Regions from separate parts of the Homo sapiens genome. Here region 2 is linked to region 1. Evidence: fine-mapped expression QTL. Tissue or cell type: whole blood. Region 1 holds a variant in brackets; the other region holds the start of a gene. All regions are shown on one strand. Distances are from middle to middle.

Region 1 (8,000 bases):
ATTTTTTGTATTTTTAGTAGAGATGGGGTTTCACCGTGTTAGCCAGGATGGTCTCAATCTCCTGACCTCGTGATCTGTCCACCTTGGCCTCCCAAAGTGCTGGGATTACACCACACTTGGACTTTTGTGTTTATTTTTAAGATTAACATATTTATGTGAAACAATACTGGGGTTTTTTTTTTTGTTTTTTTTTTGAGACGGAGTCTCGCTCTGTCGCCCAGGCTGGAGTGCAGTGGCACGATCTCGGCTCACTGCAAGCTCCACCTCCCAGATTCACGCCATTCTCCTGCCTCAGCCTCCCGAGTATCTGGGACTACAGGCGCCCTCCACCACGCCCAGCTAATTTTTTGTATTTTTTTTTTAGTAGAGACGGGGTTTCACTGTGTTAGCCTGGATGGTCTTGATCTCCTGACCTAGTGATCCACCCACCTCGGCCTCCCAAAGTGCTGGGATTACACGCATGAGCCACCGCGCCCGGCAACAATACTGGTTTTAAGTGCAAAGAGGAGATGATTCAAAGATAAATCATGTTACGCAGATAAGTGAACAGCAAATACTGGAGCTTGGGAATCACTGCCCCAGCCCAGGGCTTCTACAAGGAAAAGCCTTTCAGAGTCATGAGGGCAGGGAGGGAGGCAAGAGAAAGCTTCCCTTGGGAGGCCAAGGGAAGGATCGCTTGAGCTCAGGAGTTCAAAACCAGCCTGGACAACCTTGTCTCTACTAAAAATAAAAAAATAGGCCAGGCACAGTGGCTCACGCCTGTAATCCCAGCACTATGGGAGGCCAAAGTGGGCAGATCACCTGAGGTCAGGATTTCGAGACCAGCCTGGCCAACATGGAGAAACCCTATCTCTACTAAAAATACAAAAAATTAGCCGGGCGTGGTGGCGCATGCCTGTAATCCCAGCTACTCTGGAGGCTGAGGCGGGAGAATCGCTTGAACTTGGGAGATGGTGGTTTCAGTGAGCCAAGATCACACCATTGCACTCCAGCCTGGGCAACAAGAGCGAAACTCTGTCTCAAAAAAAAAAAAAAAGTCAGGTGTGGTGGCATGTGCCTGTAGTCCCAGCTACTCAGGAGGCTGAGGTAGGAGGATGGCTTGAGCCCAGGAGTTTAAGGTTGCAGTGAGCTGTGATCGCAGTACTGCACCCCAGCCTGGGTGACTAAGCAAGACACTGTCTCAAGAAAAAAAAAAAAAAGCTTCCTGGGCCTGCTGCTTCTGACACAGTCTATTGAGTCTCAGAGGCATTTCTGGACATGCCTTTGAGAACTACTGAACTCAGAGAAGAGAGTTCTCAAACTGAGTCCAAAGGAACTTCAGTGTACTACAAAATGTTACTAGATTACCTTGGGAGAGGTGGGGAAGGATTCCTGGGGAAGTACGTTTGAGAGGCCCTTCTCCAGTTCACTGCATGTTTTTTGTTTGTTTGTTTGTTTGTTTGTTTTTGAGATGGAGTCTCTCACTGTTGCCCCAGCTGGTGTGCAGTGGTGCGATCTCGGCTCGCTGCAATCTCCGCCTCCCGGGTTCAAGTAATTCTCCTGCCTCAGCCTCCCGAGTAGCTAGGATTACAGGCGCCCGCCACCATGCCCAGCTAATTTTTTGTACTTTTAGTAGAGACAGGGTTTCACTAGTAGAACAGCCAGGCTGTTCTCGAATTCCTGACCTCATGATCCACCCACCTCGGCCTCCCAAAGTGCTGGGATTACAGGTGTGAGCCACTGCACCCAGCCCACTGCATGTTAGATAGTCTGTTGAGGCCTGTGGAGTGCTCGGGTTAGGAAACCTGTTTAATGTTGCTTAGGACTCGTTCATCTTTGTAGCTTCAATACTTGGGACCTATAACGCTTTCTATAATCAGAGTGAATAAATGAAATGCTGTAGATGAGGAGGTGGGGGAGAGTGGTCAGTGGAAGCTTTAAGTAGTTACTAGCTTGATTCATTCATTACAAATGGGCAGCTGGGTGCAGTAGCTCATGCCTGTAATCCCAGTGTTTTGGGAGGCCAAGGCAGGAGGATCGCTTGAGGCCAGGAGATCAAGACCAGCCTAGGCAACATAGTGAGACCCTGTCTCTACAAAAAAATTGTTTAAAAATTAGCCAGGCGTGGTGACATGTGCCTGTGGTCCCAGCTACTCAGGAGGCTGAGGTGGGAGGATTGCTTGAGCCCAGTAGGTTGAGGCTGCGGTGAGCCTGAGTCCAGCCTGGGTTACAGAGTGAGACCCTGTCTCAAAAAAAATTTTTTTTCAAAAAGTGGAAAACGCAAATCTGCCCTTGTGGAATTTACATTGTAGTTGGAGGAACACAGTAATGTAATAGGGAAGATATTAGGGCTGTAAGTCCAGCTGCGGGCAGCTGGCTGTCAAGATGGGACAGGTGTGGATCAGAAGCAGAGATGAGTAAAGGAGGCAAGGACCCATGAGCACCAGAACTCAGTCAGGAATCAAGAAGCCCAAGGGTGGCTGGAGACGACTGGATAACACCAGTCCCCTTGGCATGACATCAGGCAGCATGCGTGGCATTTGTGTATGTGTTGGGCAGCACACTTTCTATGCTGGGAGGCCCACAGCTGGGATGAGCCCATGTGACCTGACAGCTGCCCTGTGGGCAGGCAGAGTGGGGGGGCTATTGCCTTCAATCATAAACGAGGCTTCTGAGGCTCAGGGAGAGGAACAGACTTGCCCAGGGTCTCATTTCCAGTTAGTGATGGAGTTGGGTTCCAATCCCAGTGCTCTTGGCTGAGGTCAGGTGCTTCTTGCTACCCTGTTGTCTGTGTGGCCAGAAGAGAGCTGGGGTGCACCCTTGGAGCTGGGGAGCCTGGGAACTGTGGGCTGCTGAGAGCTGAGGGCTGAGGTCTCTGTCTCCCCCCTATGGCCGCCAGGTGCTATGACAAGCGTCTGTGGCCTCGAATGGACCTGAGCCGGCGGAAGTCACTGACCCCGCCCATGCTCAGTGGTGTGGTTCGCCGCCAGCCCCGTGCCCTGGACCTCAGCTGGACAGGTGTCTCCAAGAAGCAGCTCATGTGGCTTCTGAACCGACTACAAGGTAGGGTGTGTGGTACGGAGGACAGGGTGGGGACAGGGACAGGCCTGGGATGGAGTCCTCACAGCACCTGCTTCCTGACTGCCCCCTCTCCGCAGGCCTGCAGGAGCTGGTGCTCTCTGGCTGCTCCTGGCTCTCTGTCTCTGCCCTGGGCTCAGCCCCACTGCCAGCCCTGCGGCTCCTGGACCTCCGCTGGATCGAGGATGTTAAAGACTCCCAGCTCCGGGAGTTGCTGCTGCCTCCACCAGACACCAAACCAGGTGCAACCTCTGTTTGCTTTTCTGGAGAATGGGCTGGGCAAGGGTAGGGTAGGAGGCCTCTCAGGTCTCTTCTGACTCATGCTGGATGGTAAAGTATTTGAAGAAAGGAAAGAATACATGAGTTTGAATAGGAAGGCCCTGGTTGGGCATTATTCATTCATTCACCCACCTGCTGTGTACTTTGAACTGAGTCTTGAAAGGAACAGGGTTTTCCCAGGGAGTGTGAGACTCAGCAGTTTGGTGGGGCAGGAGGCCCATATTGGCAGAGGGGGATGCTGGGAGCAGAGGCCATCTCTCTTCATCTACTTAAATCTCATCATCCTTTAGGCCTGGGTATAAATGCCACTTCCTCCAAGAAGCTCTCCCTGATCCCACCCCACATTGAGCTCAGAGTCCCTCTCAGCTTTGAGAGCAGCCCGCCAGCATAATACTGGGCAATTGTGGAGTGCCTTGATGCACATCTGTGCCCTCCTGCCAGGGTCTCCAGCTCCCTGAGGGCAAGCGCTGGCTGGTCCCCCAGCACGTTCTCAGTGGCTGCTCCATAGATAGCTGTTGAATGAATAACTTGAATGAGCAATCAGGATGGGAGAGGTCTAGTTTGAGGAAAGATTTTCAAAAGGAGATTTGCAGTCCCCTGAAATAAGATAATCCTTTTGTTTGTTTTTGTTTTTTGAGACCATCTGGCTCTGTCACCCAGACTGGAGTGCAGTGGCAAGATCTCGGCTTACTGCAACTTATGCCTCCTGGGTTCAAGTGATCCTCCCCACCTCAGCCTCCTGAGTAGCTGGGCCTACAGGCGTGTGCCACCACGCCTGGCTAATTTTTTTGTAATTTTTTTTTTTTTTTTTTTTTTTTTGAGGTGAAGTCTTGCTCTGTCGCCCAGGCTGGAGTGCAGTGGTGCTATCTCGGATCACTGCAAGCTCCACCTCC[C/T]GGGTTCACGCCATTCTCCTGCCTCAGCCTCCCAAGTAGCTGGGACTACAGGCGCCCGCCACCACGCCTGGCTAATTTTTTGTATTTTTAGTAGAGACGGGGTTTCACTGTGTTAGCCAGGATGGTCTTGATCTCCTGACCTCATGATCCGCCTGCCTCGGCCTCCCAAAGTGCTGGGATTACAGGTGTTAGCCACCGCACCCGGCCTGTAATTCTTATAGAAACAGGGTTTCATCATGTTGTCCAGGCCGATCTCGAACTCCTTGTCTCAAGTGATCTGCCCACCTCTGCCTTCCAAAGTGTTGGGATTATAGGCGTGAGCCACCACACCTGGCCAAAAGAATCTTTTCTTTTGGAGTTCTTTCACCCCTCTCTTTCATAGTTCCCTTCTTCCCACCATGCCCCCTCCACAACAGCCCTGAAAGGGGAGAATAGAGAAGCAACTAAGATTCTTCCCGTATTCTAGATGAGGCACTGGAGGCCCAGAGGGATTGACTGCTGCAGGTCACCCAGTCAGGCCAGAGCACTCAGCCATTGTCCACTCTTACCAGAATTGGACTGAGTTGGAGAGCTATGGGTGGGGGGTAAGGTGGGCATTGGGAATGGTGCATCCTGGGAGGTGAGAAAGTGCTGGCTGGTCCATTTCCTCCTGCTGGAATTCAGTTCAGTTCAGCCCTTTATCAGGAGCTCAGGAAGGTGGGCCTTTTTTTTTTTTTTTTTTTTTTTTTTTAGTTTTTAAATTTTTTTTTTAACTTTTAAGTTCATGGGTATATGTGCAGGTTTGTTAAATGGGTAAACTTGTGTCATGGGGGTTTGTTGTACCGATTATTTCATCACCCAGGTATTAAGTCTATTTACCATTAGTTATTTCTCCTGATCCTCTCCCTCCTCCCTCTGAAAGGCTCCAGGGTGTGTTGTTCCCATGGATGTGTCCATGTGTTCTCATCATTTAGCTCCCATTTCTAAGTGAGAACATGCAATTTCTGTTCCTGCATTAGTTTGCTAAGGATAATGGCCTCCAGCTCCTTCCATGTTCCTGTAAAGGACATGATCTTGTTCTTTTTTATGGCTGCATAGTATTCCATGGTGTATATGTACCACATTTTCTTTATTCATTCTTTCATTGATGGGCATTGAGGTTGATTCCATGGCTTTTACTATTGTGAACAGTGCCATACACCTTCAAACTCTTGCCCAGCTTAAATGCCACCACCTCAGTGAAATCCTCACTGATGCCTACTCCTCCCTGCCCAAGCCAGAAGTGACTTCTCTTTCCTCTGCTTTCCTCTATGGGCCTTTCCTCCTTGTGCCTTTAGCTGTGGCCCAAGGTTGAGGGCATCTGTAAAGGTATCCCCTCTCCAGGCGCTTGGCTCCTCAAAGACAGGAGGAGGGGTTAAAATTTAGGGCTTGCAAAGTCAAGTGCCCATAGAGTTGGCCTGGGAGGTAACAGAAGTGATGCATTGGTGTAGGACATTAGGGAGTGGCACCTAGCCACCCAGCTCCCCTCAGTCATCATCTGGTGGGAAGGAGTGCCTAGTGAGGCCACATCTTACGATTCTTCAAGGAAAAGCTCAGTATGTAAATTTATTTATAAAAATGTCCTTTTTGTAGTGTTAGTCATTAAGGAAGTTTTTAGCATTCTGTAGACTCCATAAAACATGTTTGGAGGGCAGCCTCATGGTTTGTGCCATCTGATCTATTAATAGTTTATCTTAGGGATAGGCTGGTGCCTGGGAGGCAGACAACACTGTGGTAAGAGTTCAGATTCAGCATCACCAGGCCTGGGTTTCCTGGCTGTAAACAGGAATGATGATCAGAGATCTTGTCTCCCAAGGCTGTGGTTCTTAAAGTGTGGTCGGGGGACCAGCAGCATCCACAAAACTGGAGAACTTGTTAAAAAAGTAAACTCTGGGCCGGGCATGGTGGCTCACACCTGTAATCCTAGCACTTTGGGAGGCCGAGGTGGGCAGATCACTTGAGGTCAGGAGTTTGAGACCAGCCTGGCCAACATGGTGAAACCCCATCTCTACTAAAAAAATACAAAAAATTAGCCAGGCGTGGTGGCAAATGCTTTTAATCCCAACTACTTGGGAGGCTGTGGCAAGGAGATTGCTTGAACCTGGGAGGTGGAAGTTGCAGTGAGCCGAGATTGCACCACTGTACTCCATCCTGGGTTACAGAGTGAGACTCCATCTCAAAAAAAAAAAAAAAAAAGTAAACTCTGGTCAGGTGCGGTGGCTCAGGCCTGTAATCCCAGCACTTTGGGAGGCCAAAGTGGGAGGATCAAGGCTACAGTGAGCTACAGGGAGGTTGAGGCTGCAGTAAGCTGTGATTGTACCACTGCACTCCAGCCTGGGTGACAGAGCAAGACTCCGTCTCGGGGAAAAAAAAAAAAAAAAAAAAAAAAGGAAAACGTATGTATGTCAGAAAAATGCATATAATATGTCAAATGGTGAGAAAAAGAGGAAAAAATGATGCAAGGAAGTGGTAGGAGTGTGGAGAATTACATTAGTTTTTGCATTGCTATAAAGAAATACCTTCGGCTGGGTAATTTATAAAGAAAAGAGGTTGAATTGGCTCAGGATTCTGCAAGCTGTACAGGAAGTATCGTGCCTGCGTCTGCTCAGCTTCTGGGGAAGCCTCACGTAGCTTTTACTCTTGATGGAACGTGAAGGAATCGGCATGTCACATGGCAAGACAGCAAGAGAGAGGAGGGGAGGTCACAGACTCTTTTATTTATTTATTTATTTATTTTGAGATGGAGTCTCGCTCTGTTGCCCAGGCTGGGGTGCAGTGGCACAATCGTGGCTCACTGCAACCTCCACCTCTCGGGTTCAAGTGATTCTCCTGCCTCAGCCTCCTGAGTAGCCGGGATTACAGGCGCCTGCCACCATACCCGGCTAATTTTTGTATGTTGAGTAGAGACAAGGTTTTGCCATGTTAGGCCAGGCTAGTCTCGAACTCCTGACCTCAAGTGAGCCGCCTGCCTCGGCTTCCCAAAGTGCTAGGATTACAGGCATGAGCCACCACGCCTGGCAGAATATTGTAGTCTCAAATACAATAATCATGGAAGGCCTCCGAGGAGGTGATGTGAGGAGTGGACAGATGAGGTCAGGCCATGAGGGTGTTTTTGAGAAGAGCAAGCCACAGAGTGCACCAGGTCACTCACTTATGTGGGAAGCAGGTGGAGGGCAGATGGTCTGGATACCTGGGCGCAGGGATGGGAGTGGCCAGGAGTGCTGACCTCTCATCTGGCTGCCCAGGGCAAACAGAGAGCCGTGGTCGGCTGCAGGGGGTGGCAGAACTGCGTCTGGCAGGTTTGGAGCTGACAGATGCCTCCCTGCGTCTCCTGCTGCGTCACGCACCCCAGCTGAGCGCCCTGGACCTGAGCCACTGCGCCCACGTCGGGGACCCCAGTGTTCACCTCCTCACGGCCCCCACGTCCCCACTCCGCGAGACCCTGGTGCACCTCAATCTTGCTGGTAAGCACGGTCCCCCATCCGTCCTGCCAGCCTGTGGATCCCCACGGCCAGTGCCAACCCCTTGCTCACCTGCCTGGTCTCAGCTCCACTGCCCCATCCCCAGGTTGCCACCGCCTAACGGACCACTGCCTCCCGCTGTTCCGCCGCTGCCCTCGTCTACGCCGCCTAGACCTGCGCTCCTGCCGCCAGCTCTCACCCGAAGCTTGTGCCCGGCTGGCAGCTGCCGGGCCCCCTGGCCCCTTCCGCTGCCCTGAGGAGAAGCTGCTTCTCAAGGACAGCTAGTTGGGCG
Region 2 (8,000 bases), 210 kb after region 1:
GAGGCTGAGGCAGGAGAATTGCGTGAACCCGGGAGGCGGAGGTTGCAGTGAGCTGAGATCATGCTACTGCACTCCAGCCTGGGCGACTGAGCAAGACTCCGTCTCAAAAAAAAAAAAAAAAAAAAAGGAACTCCGTCTCAAAAAATAAATTAAATAAATAAATAAATAAATACATAAATAAATTCACTTGGCCAGGCGCAAGTGAATGCAAAATTAGCAGTCTGTGGTGGTGCATGCCTGTAATCTCAGCTACTTGGGGGGCTGAAGCACAAGAGTCGCTTGAGCGGTGGGGGTGGAGCAGGGGGAGGTTGCAGTAAGCCGAGATTGCGCCACTGCAGTCCAGCCTGGACGACAAAGTGAGGCTCTGTCTCAAAATACACAAACAAAAAACTTCACGTCAACCCCATCCCTTGGCAATCTTGCCCTCCTTTTGCAGATGAGGCTTGGAGAGATGTCCTTTATCTATTTGTCACTGGTTAGGACTCTGGCCCTGCCAGGCAGGTGCCGGGGCCTTCCCTCACCTGGCAGGTGTCCCTGCGGCCCTCTGGGTAGCCAGCACACAGCATCCCTGGCAATATCTGGAGAGTGAGGTTGAAGGGACCGGGCTGGCTGTAGAGACATTGACAGGTGGCCTCGCCCAGCAGCCTTAGCTCCACTTCCTGTAGCACCCAGGGGAGAGGCAGAGGATCTGGAGGCAGAACCAGAGAGCAGGTGCTGTGAGGCAGGTATGGCATCCCCAGTTCCCAGGGTTCAGGTTTGCCTCCTGCGGCTGCTTCTTGGACATCAGCTAGATGCCCCATGGCCTCTCAGCCCACCACATTCACCACATCTCCTCCTGCTTCTATCTGTTCTTTCTACTTTTTCATCTCAGGAATGGTCTCATCAAGCTCCTAGTGAGAGCTGCCATGCATGGTTGTGCAGGTTGTGCACTGCAACAAAGGATGCAATGTAGGGACTAAAACCATTAAGTTCTGAGCTCTCACGTGGAGTTGTGTTGGTCCAGAGACATCTTTTCACAGAGATGCCATACGGACTTGACATGGTCCTGTCCTGAGTTGCCAAGCATGGAATCTGGGTGTCATCCCTGTCTCCTCTCTCAACTCCCCTCCTCCAGTCAGTTCCCAGTTCATGAAAACCTCTCATTTGTGACGTCTTGGCATTCTAAACAACTACACTAGTTGAGGCTGCATAGCTTTGGGCCTGGATAACTGACCCAGCCTTCTGATCCACTCTTCACTTCAGCAATGAAGAGGAATGCTACTCAAGTTCAGTTCTGATCTCACCAAGAAAAATAAACGGATCACACTGTCTAAACTTGGTGCTGCAGCCCATCCTGCTTTTGACGGAAACAGCTTCAGGATCCAGAAAGGAGTAGGGGGTGGGGGGAAGTACAGACAGAACTCCTTCCCCAACTCACTCAGAATCTGAGGTCAAAGGCGCGGTGACTCACACCTGTAATTCCAGCACTTTGGGAGGCCGAGGCAGGTGGATCACCTGAGGTTAGGAGTTCAAAACTAGCCTGCCCAACATAGTGAAACCCTGTCTCTACTAAAAATACAAAAAATTAGCTGGGCGTGGTGGTGGGTGCCTATAATCCCAGCTACTTGGGAGATTGAGGCAGTAGAATCTGCTTGAAGCTGGGAGGCGGAGGTTGCAGTGAGCCTAGATCGCGCCGTTGCACTCCAGCCTGGGCAACAAGAGTGAAACTCTGTCTCAAAAAGAAAAAAAGAATTGATGAAAAAAAGAAAAGAATTTGAGGTCAGGTGATGGCTGAAGCTGTACTTGGGGCTCACCAGGGAAGTTGGGGATTGTCCTGGGCGTCCCTGGAGCTGGTGGGGTGCTCTGGCCCTCAGTCTGATCTTAAGGTCTTCATGGCCGGGCCACAGCAGCCTTTGCAGCCCAGGTGCCTGTACCCCTCTCACTCCAGCCTGGCATCCTGGCCCTTCTTCATCTAACATGACTTATCTGGGTCCACAGGGTGGCCTTCATCTCCCCCCATCTTCCTGCAATGTACCCTCTCTTCAAAAATCTCTGCAGAAATCTCCCTCTCTGGGTGCCCATTGTTAGGATGGCCTGGCCCCATTCACACAGACTTCCTGGGGCTCACAGTGACGCTTCCTCATCACCTCCTGCCCTGATGGGACCTCCACAAGCAGAGGCTGTAGCATCTTCCCCTGTAGCACCTACCCAAAGCCCCGAGGATGGGCACAGGTCTGACCACGGCTGATGTGGATATTTGTGGGGGCCCTGGGAGCATGGAAAGCTTGGGTGATGGGGATGATGGGGATGGAGATTTGGTCTATTCCCCCCCACCTTCTAACATAATGCGTGCTTATTTATTGAATTTGTTGCTTGTCTATCTCCTAGGATGTAAACTCTGAAAAGGCAGGATTTTGGCTTTTTATGTTCACTGGTGTCTCTCTAATGCCTAACACGGTGCCTGGCATGTAGAAGGTGCTCAAGAAATATCTTGAGTGAAAGAATGATTGAATGAATGATGGTGGGTAGGAAGAAGAGAGGAGGTGGGGAGTAGAGAGATGAGTGGGGGTGGATGGAATGAGAGGAAGGCGGATGGGAGGGAGGCACAGACTGGCATTTGCTGAATATCTATTATAGGCCAGCCTTATGCTGTAGTGCTTTACTATAGATTACCTGAGGTGAAATATGTAAAGTGCATTGGTTATTGCTATGCCAGGCACTGTACTATGAACTTTACATGGATTTTCTCATTTAATCCACTCAACCACCCCTTGAAGTGGGTATGGCTATTTTCCTCGTGTTACAGATGAGGAAATGTACTGGGTGAAGTGCTTTGTCTGACATGTTAGAGCTGGGATGGGAACCCTAGTCGGAGCCTAAACCCAGGAAAGAAAAAACTGGAAGGACAGGTAAGGAGGGAATGGGGTGCGTGTGGGTGATTCCGTGGTCTTAGTTTGAGAATCCTTGCAGGGAGAAGGCTACATGGAGATCGGTGTGGGATTCATCCACCGACCCGCAGAAACCTACCCTCCAACGCTCCCCGCAGGCTCCGCTCCGTGGCCCCACCTCCTGAGGCCCCGCCCTAGGAACCTCACCTCTCGAAGCCCCACCTCCCCGAGGCCCTCCCCTCTTGTCCCGTCCCACTCACCTGCCTCCTGGACGTCTCCCCAGCCGGTGGCCCAGCAGGCGGTGCCGTGCACGAAGCGGTGTGAGGCGCGGGGCAGGCAGACAGGCCACACGGCGGGGCCCAGGCTGGCGGGTGAGGCCAGGCGCAGCAGGGCCAGGTCGGCGCCCAGCTCCACTTGGCTGTAGTTGGCCGGCACCACGATGGCGGCCACTGCGCGGGTGTGCGCGCCGTCCAGGGGCCCGTCCTGGGAGTGCACGCCCAGCAGTACCGACCACTCGGCCGCGGGCTCCAGCGTCCCATTCCTGCGCTCGACCGGGGCAGTAGGAGGTTAGGTTGACCCTATGGAGGGGGCAGACCCTCGTTGGGGGCAGGGGCTCAGAGCCAGAGGGGCAGGTGCTATCCGATCCAGATTTGGTGCTGATACTCCTCAAAGGGGAAGAGCAAATCCGATTTGGAGCTGGTGGTGGGGGGGTCATTGGAAAGATGGGATTCAGACCCGGATATTGAGTGGAGTGGTGGGACCAGTCCGGCAGCCTTGCCCCACTCGGAACCATGATGCCTCGAATAGCACCTCGCTTTGGGGACAGCTTGGCTCCAAATTATCCTTGAGGACGGAAGTGGGGCGGGAGGAGGGGACCAACTGCGGGGGCGGGGGCCAGCTTTTGGCGGAGAGGGGCCAGGACCAGGGCGAATACTCACGTCATGAAACAGTGAGCAGCGGAGAGGACCCAGGAGGGGGCGATGAGGGAGCCCCCGCAGATGTGGCCACCTCCATGGTGCAGGCTCACTTGCCAAGGCCAGGTGCCCGGCTGCGCGTTTGAGCCCCCCACGATGCGGGCCGAGGGCTCAGGGCGCCCGCAGTCTGCAACGGGGAGCCGTGGAAGCCAAAGCTCCCCTCGGGTTCCCCACTCCAGAAGCCCAGGTAACTCAGGACGAAGGCCCGTCCTCCACCCACTTCAGTTTGCCCCTCTGAACAAAGAACATAGAGGACCCAGGCTTGTCTACATTTCTGGTCTTTTCCACCTCCCTCATGGCCTGACCAGCCTTAGCCTCCTTTAAGGTCTGAGGGTGCCAAGGCCTCTTCCTTACCCAGATCTTCAGGTTCTTCCTGGGTAGGACTGAGAGCTGGGAGCCAGAGGGGAAAGAGAGGAGGACACTTGTGACTTCCAGGCCTGCACCGCCCAGCCCCACTTCCTGCTCTCCAACCCCCGACCCTATCTTCCCACTTCCCTGTCCGTTCAGCAACCCCTGCCAGCACCCATGCCAGTCCTCTGGTCTTTTCTGCCTCTGCACGTGACTTTCCCCCAGTCCGGCTACCTTACCTGAGTCCTGGAAGGCTCCTGGGATGGGACTGATGACTGGAAAGACAGAGGTAGGCAGGAAGAGGCTGGCGACTCGCACTCAGTATGTGCCCTCCCTGACTCCCTCCCCCAGCCTCCTAGCCTCCGTCTCCCCAGGGCACCCAGGCCTCCCTCTCCCTCCTCTGATACATCCTCGCCTTCTGCTGCCTCACTTCCTTCTCTCTGACTTCCTGCTCCCCACACAGAAACCAGGAATCCTGCTCTCCAGCCCCCCAGATGCCAGGACCCAGGCCCTTTGCAGCCACTCTTGTCCCCTGAGGTTACCAAGCATCACAAGGGGGAGGAGCAGGTGCCGGGCCATGGCGCTAGAGTCAGCGGAGGCAGAGCCAAGTGAAGGTCTGCTCCCTGCAGGGCTCTGTCACTGCCCAGGCAGCCCGTGACTCCTGATGGTCCCAGGGGCAGCCCCACCCTCCCTGGCTGGAGCCCATCTCTGGGAATCTGAGAGGATCTGGGGCTGGAAGGGGGAAGCTGGGGAGCCTGAAGGCCCCACCCAGAGCCCTGCGCACATCTCATGTCTCTGGAGGCCCAGGGTGGGGGTGGAGGACAGGTGTCCTAGCTCCTGGACACCTGTTGGGTGGGAGAGGGAGGGATGAAAAACACTGCAGGCAAAGGTCAAAGAGGAGGACAGTGTTCTGTGTCCTTGGTGAGCAGTGGCCCTTAGGACAGGGGAAGTGGCCCCTCACGGGCATGACTCATCGGAGACCTCACCTCTGTTTGGGGTGCGGCTGCCCCAGTGGCTTGGCCTTTTCTTCTCACACAGCTCTGGTTACTGGAGCTGCTGGCCAGGTCTGGGACAGGAGCCCTAGGGAATTCAATCCCATCCCAACAAAAGGATCACAGATTCCAGCAGGTTGGGCAGGGCATAGGGACCCTGGGAGGGGGCTGGGCAGGCTGGCGAGGCTGAAAAAGCCTCCACCCTGCTCTGTGTTCCAGTGACAATGCTCTTAGCTGCCCTGTCACTTACTCTGTGTGACTTTGGGAAAGTAACCCAACCTCTTGGTGTGTATCAGTAAGAGCCAGTTTAAGGGACATATGACTTGGCCGAGCACGGTGGCTCACTCCTGTGATCCTAACACTCTGGGAGACTGAGGTGGGAGGATTGCTTGAGGCTAGGAGTTCAAGACCAGCCTGGTCAACATAGCAAGACCCCATCTCTACAAAAAATTAAAAAATACAAAAATTATGAACTGCAGGGCGTGGTGGTGCACGTCTGTATCCCAGCTACTCGGGAGATGAGGTGGGAGGATTGCTTGAGCCTGGGAGGTCGAGGTTGCAGTGAGCTATGATTGTGCCACTGCACTCCAGCCTGGGTGACAAAGCGAGACCCTGTCTCAACAACAACAACAAAAAGAAAAAAAAAAAGAAGAATAAGAAGAAGAAAGAAACATATGGCTCTTCAAAGAGGAGTTGAAGAGAGTTTAAGGAAGAAACTATTTATAGAAGTGTAGGCAGGGTCAAAGGAAACCAAAGAGGCTGGGTGGCTCACGGCTGTAATCCCAGCACTTTGGTAGGCCGAGGCGGGCAGATCACCTGAGGTCAGGAGTTCAAGACCAGCCTGGCTAACTTGGAGAAGCCCCATCTATACTAAAAATACAAAAATTAGCCGAGTGTGGTGGAACTCACCTGTAATCCCACCTATTAGGGAGGCTGAGGCAGATAAAAATGCTTGAACCCAGGACGTGGAGGTTGCAGTGAGCCAAGATAGCGCCGTTGCACTCTAGCCTGGGTGACAAGAGCGAACTCCGTCTCACAAAAAAAAAAAAAAAAAGGAAACCAAAGAGGGATGGTAACGCATCCTGGGGCCAGCAATAATAGAGAGCCCTTGCTACCTGCTGGCCTGAAGAGGCAGAGAGGGGGCAGTTACTGGAACCCAGCAAGAGCTGCAGCTATGGAAGAGATAGCTGTTAGGAGCCGTGGCCTTCAATAGAGAAATGCAGCCTTTACCAGCAGAGAGGGAGTGGGGAAAGAAAAATCCCCATCTCACTCTCATCTCATCCTCTCTATTTTTAATTAAACCAATTAAAAAATTTTAGAGACACGGTCTCACTCTGTCACCCAGGCTGGAGTGCAGTGCTGTGATTATAGCTCACTGTAACCTCGAATTCCTGGGCTTAAGCGATCCTCTGGCCTCAGCCTCCTGAGAAGCTGGGACTACAGGCACGCACCACCATACCCAGCTAATGTTTTTTATTTTTGTAGAGATGGGGTCTTATTATGTTGCCCAGGCTGGTCTCAAACTCCTGTCTCAAGCGATCTTGCTGCCTCAGTCTTCCAAAAGTGCTGGGATCCTCCCATCCTCTGATCACCCCCTGGCTCTTTTCATTGAAACCTCCCAGAGGCCAGAGTTCAAGGGAGACCATTATATGGTCCATAAAGGTCACTCTTAGGGAACAAATCAGGGTGGACAGCAGAAATGCAGGGTCAACCCAGGAATATTTACACATGTGTATCTATCTTCTTACTGATAATATCAATTAATAATAATATTGGTCTATGAGTCTAGTTGCCCTAGAAAACAGGCCTAGGCAAAGCCTGCATGCTTGTGCTTAATTGGGAGGTGCAATCCCAGGGTGGCAAGATTGAGGGAAAATGAGAAGTGAGCAGGAAGAGGGAAAATGCAAATTCAGCCACCCAGCAACGGACTGGGCTCAATTGATAAACCTGCTAGCCTTAGCCTGTCCACAGGAAACGATGGAGGTAAATTGAGTCTTAACTTCAGATTTCTTAACAATGAGAGCCTCCTCAGGCATTTGTTTAACTTGCTGCTTGGGTAGCTATTTGCCCTTCAAAGGATAAATAACCAATCATTTAACCAAAACTCAGAAAAATGAGGTAATGGGCAAAGGTAGGAAAGAAGAGAGTGCAAGTGTCATTGACGCAAAACATGCACGCCCTGGAGACCCTCACCGATACATTGCTTGCTCCAATTTAGTGGTTAATAAACATTTTGGAGCTGGGCGCGGTGGCTCATGCTGGTAATCCCAGCACTTTGGGAGGCCGAGGCAGGTGGATCATGAGGTCAGGAGTTCAAGACCAGCAGCCTGGCCAACATGGTAAAACCCTATCTCTACTCAAAATTAAAAAATTAGCTGGGCATGGTGGCATGTGCCTGTAATCCCAGCTACTCAGGAGGCTGAGACAGGAGAATGGCTTGAACCCAGGAGGCGGAGGTTGTGCTCAGCTGAAATCGCACCACTGCACTCCAGGCTGGGTGATAGAGTGAGACTCTGTCTCGAAATAAATAAATAAATAAATAAAATTTTGGGGCCAGGTGCAGTGGCTCAAGCCTGTACTAGTGCTTTGGGAGGCCAAGATGGGAGGATTGCTGGAGGCCAGGAGTTCTAGACCAACCTGGGCAGCATAACGCGATCCTGTGTGTGGTGGTGTGCACCTGTAGTCCCAGCTGCCCAGGGGTTTCTCCATGTTGGTCAGGCTGGTCTCAAACTCCTGACCTCAGGTGATCCACCTGCCTCGGCCTCCCAAAGTGCTGGGATTACAGGCATGAGCCACCGTGCCCAGCCAAGACAATGATT

Evidence for each region. PIP is the estimated chance that this variant, and not a neighbour inherited with it, causes the effect.
Region 2: it holds the start of PRSS36, and the variant in region 1 is fine-mapped to the expression of PRSS36 in whole blood (TOPMed, PIP above 0.99).

Annotation. Positions count from the first base shown.
Region 1 is chr16:30,939,238-30,947,237 of GRCh38, forward strand. It overlaps FBXL19 (F-box and leucine rich repeat protein 19), which reads left to right. Exons shown (of 11, transcript NM_001382779.1): 8 at 2,879-3,042; 9 at 3,138-3,299; 10 at 7,493-7,711; 11 at 7,815-8,000. The coding sequence ends at 7,993. Among named protein-coding and RNA genes, the nearest start is that of ORAI3, 5.8 kb to the right of the region's middle. RefSeq lists a silencer at 2,773-2,902 and an enhancer at 3,327-4,269. The variant C/T (reference allele first, on the strand shown) is at 4,230.
Region 2 is chr16:31,145,268-31,153,267 of GRCh38, forward strand. PRSS36 (serine protease 36) reads right to left here and starts at 4,799. Exons shown (of 15, transcript NM_173502.5): 1 at 4,732-4,799; 2 at 4,429-4,464; 3 at 4,196-4,231; 4 at 3,806-3,968; 5 at 3,128-3,408; 6 at 522-688. The coding sequence starts at 4,768. RefSeq lists enhancers at 3,433-3,970, 3,971-4,506, 4,507-5,043.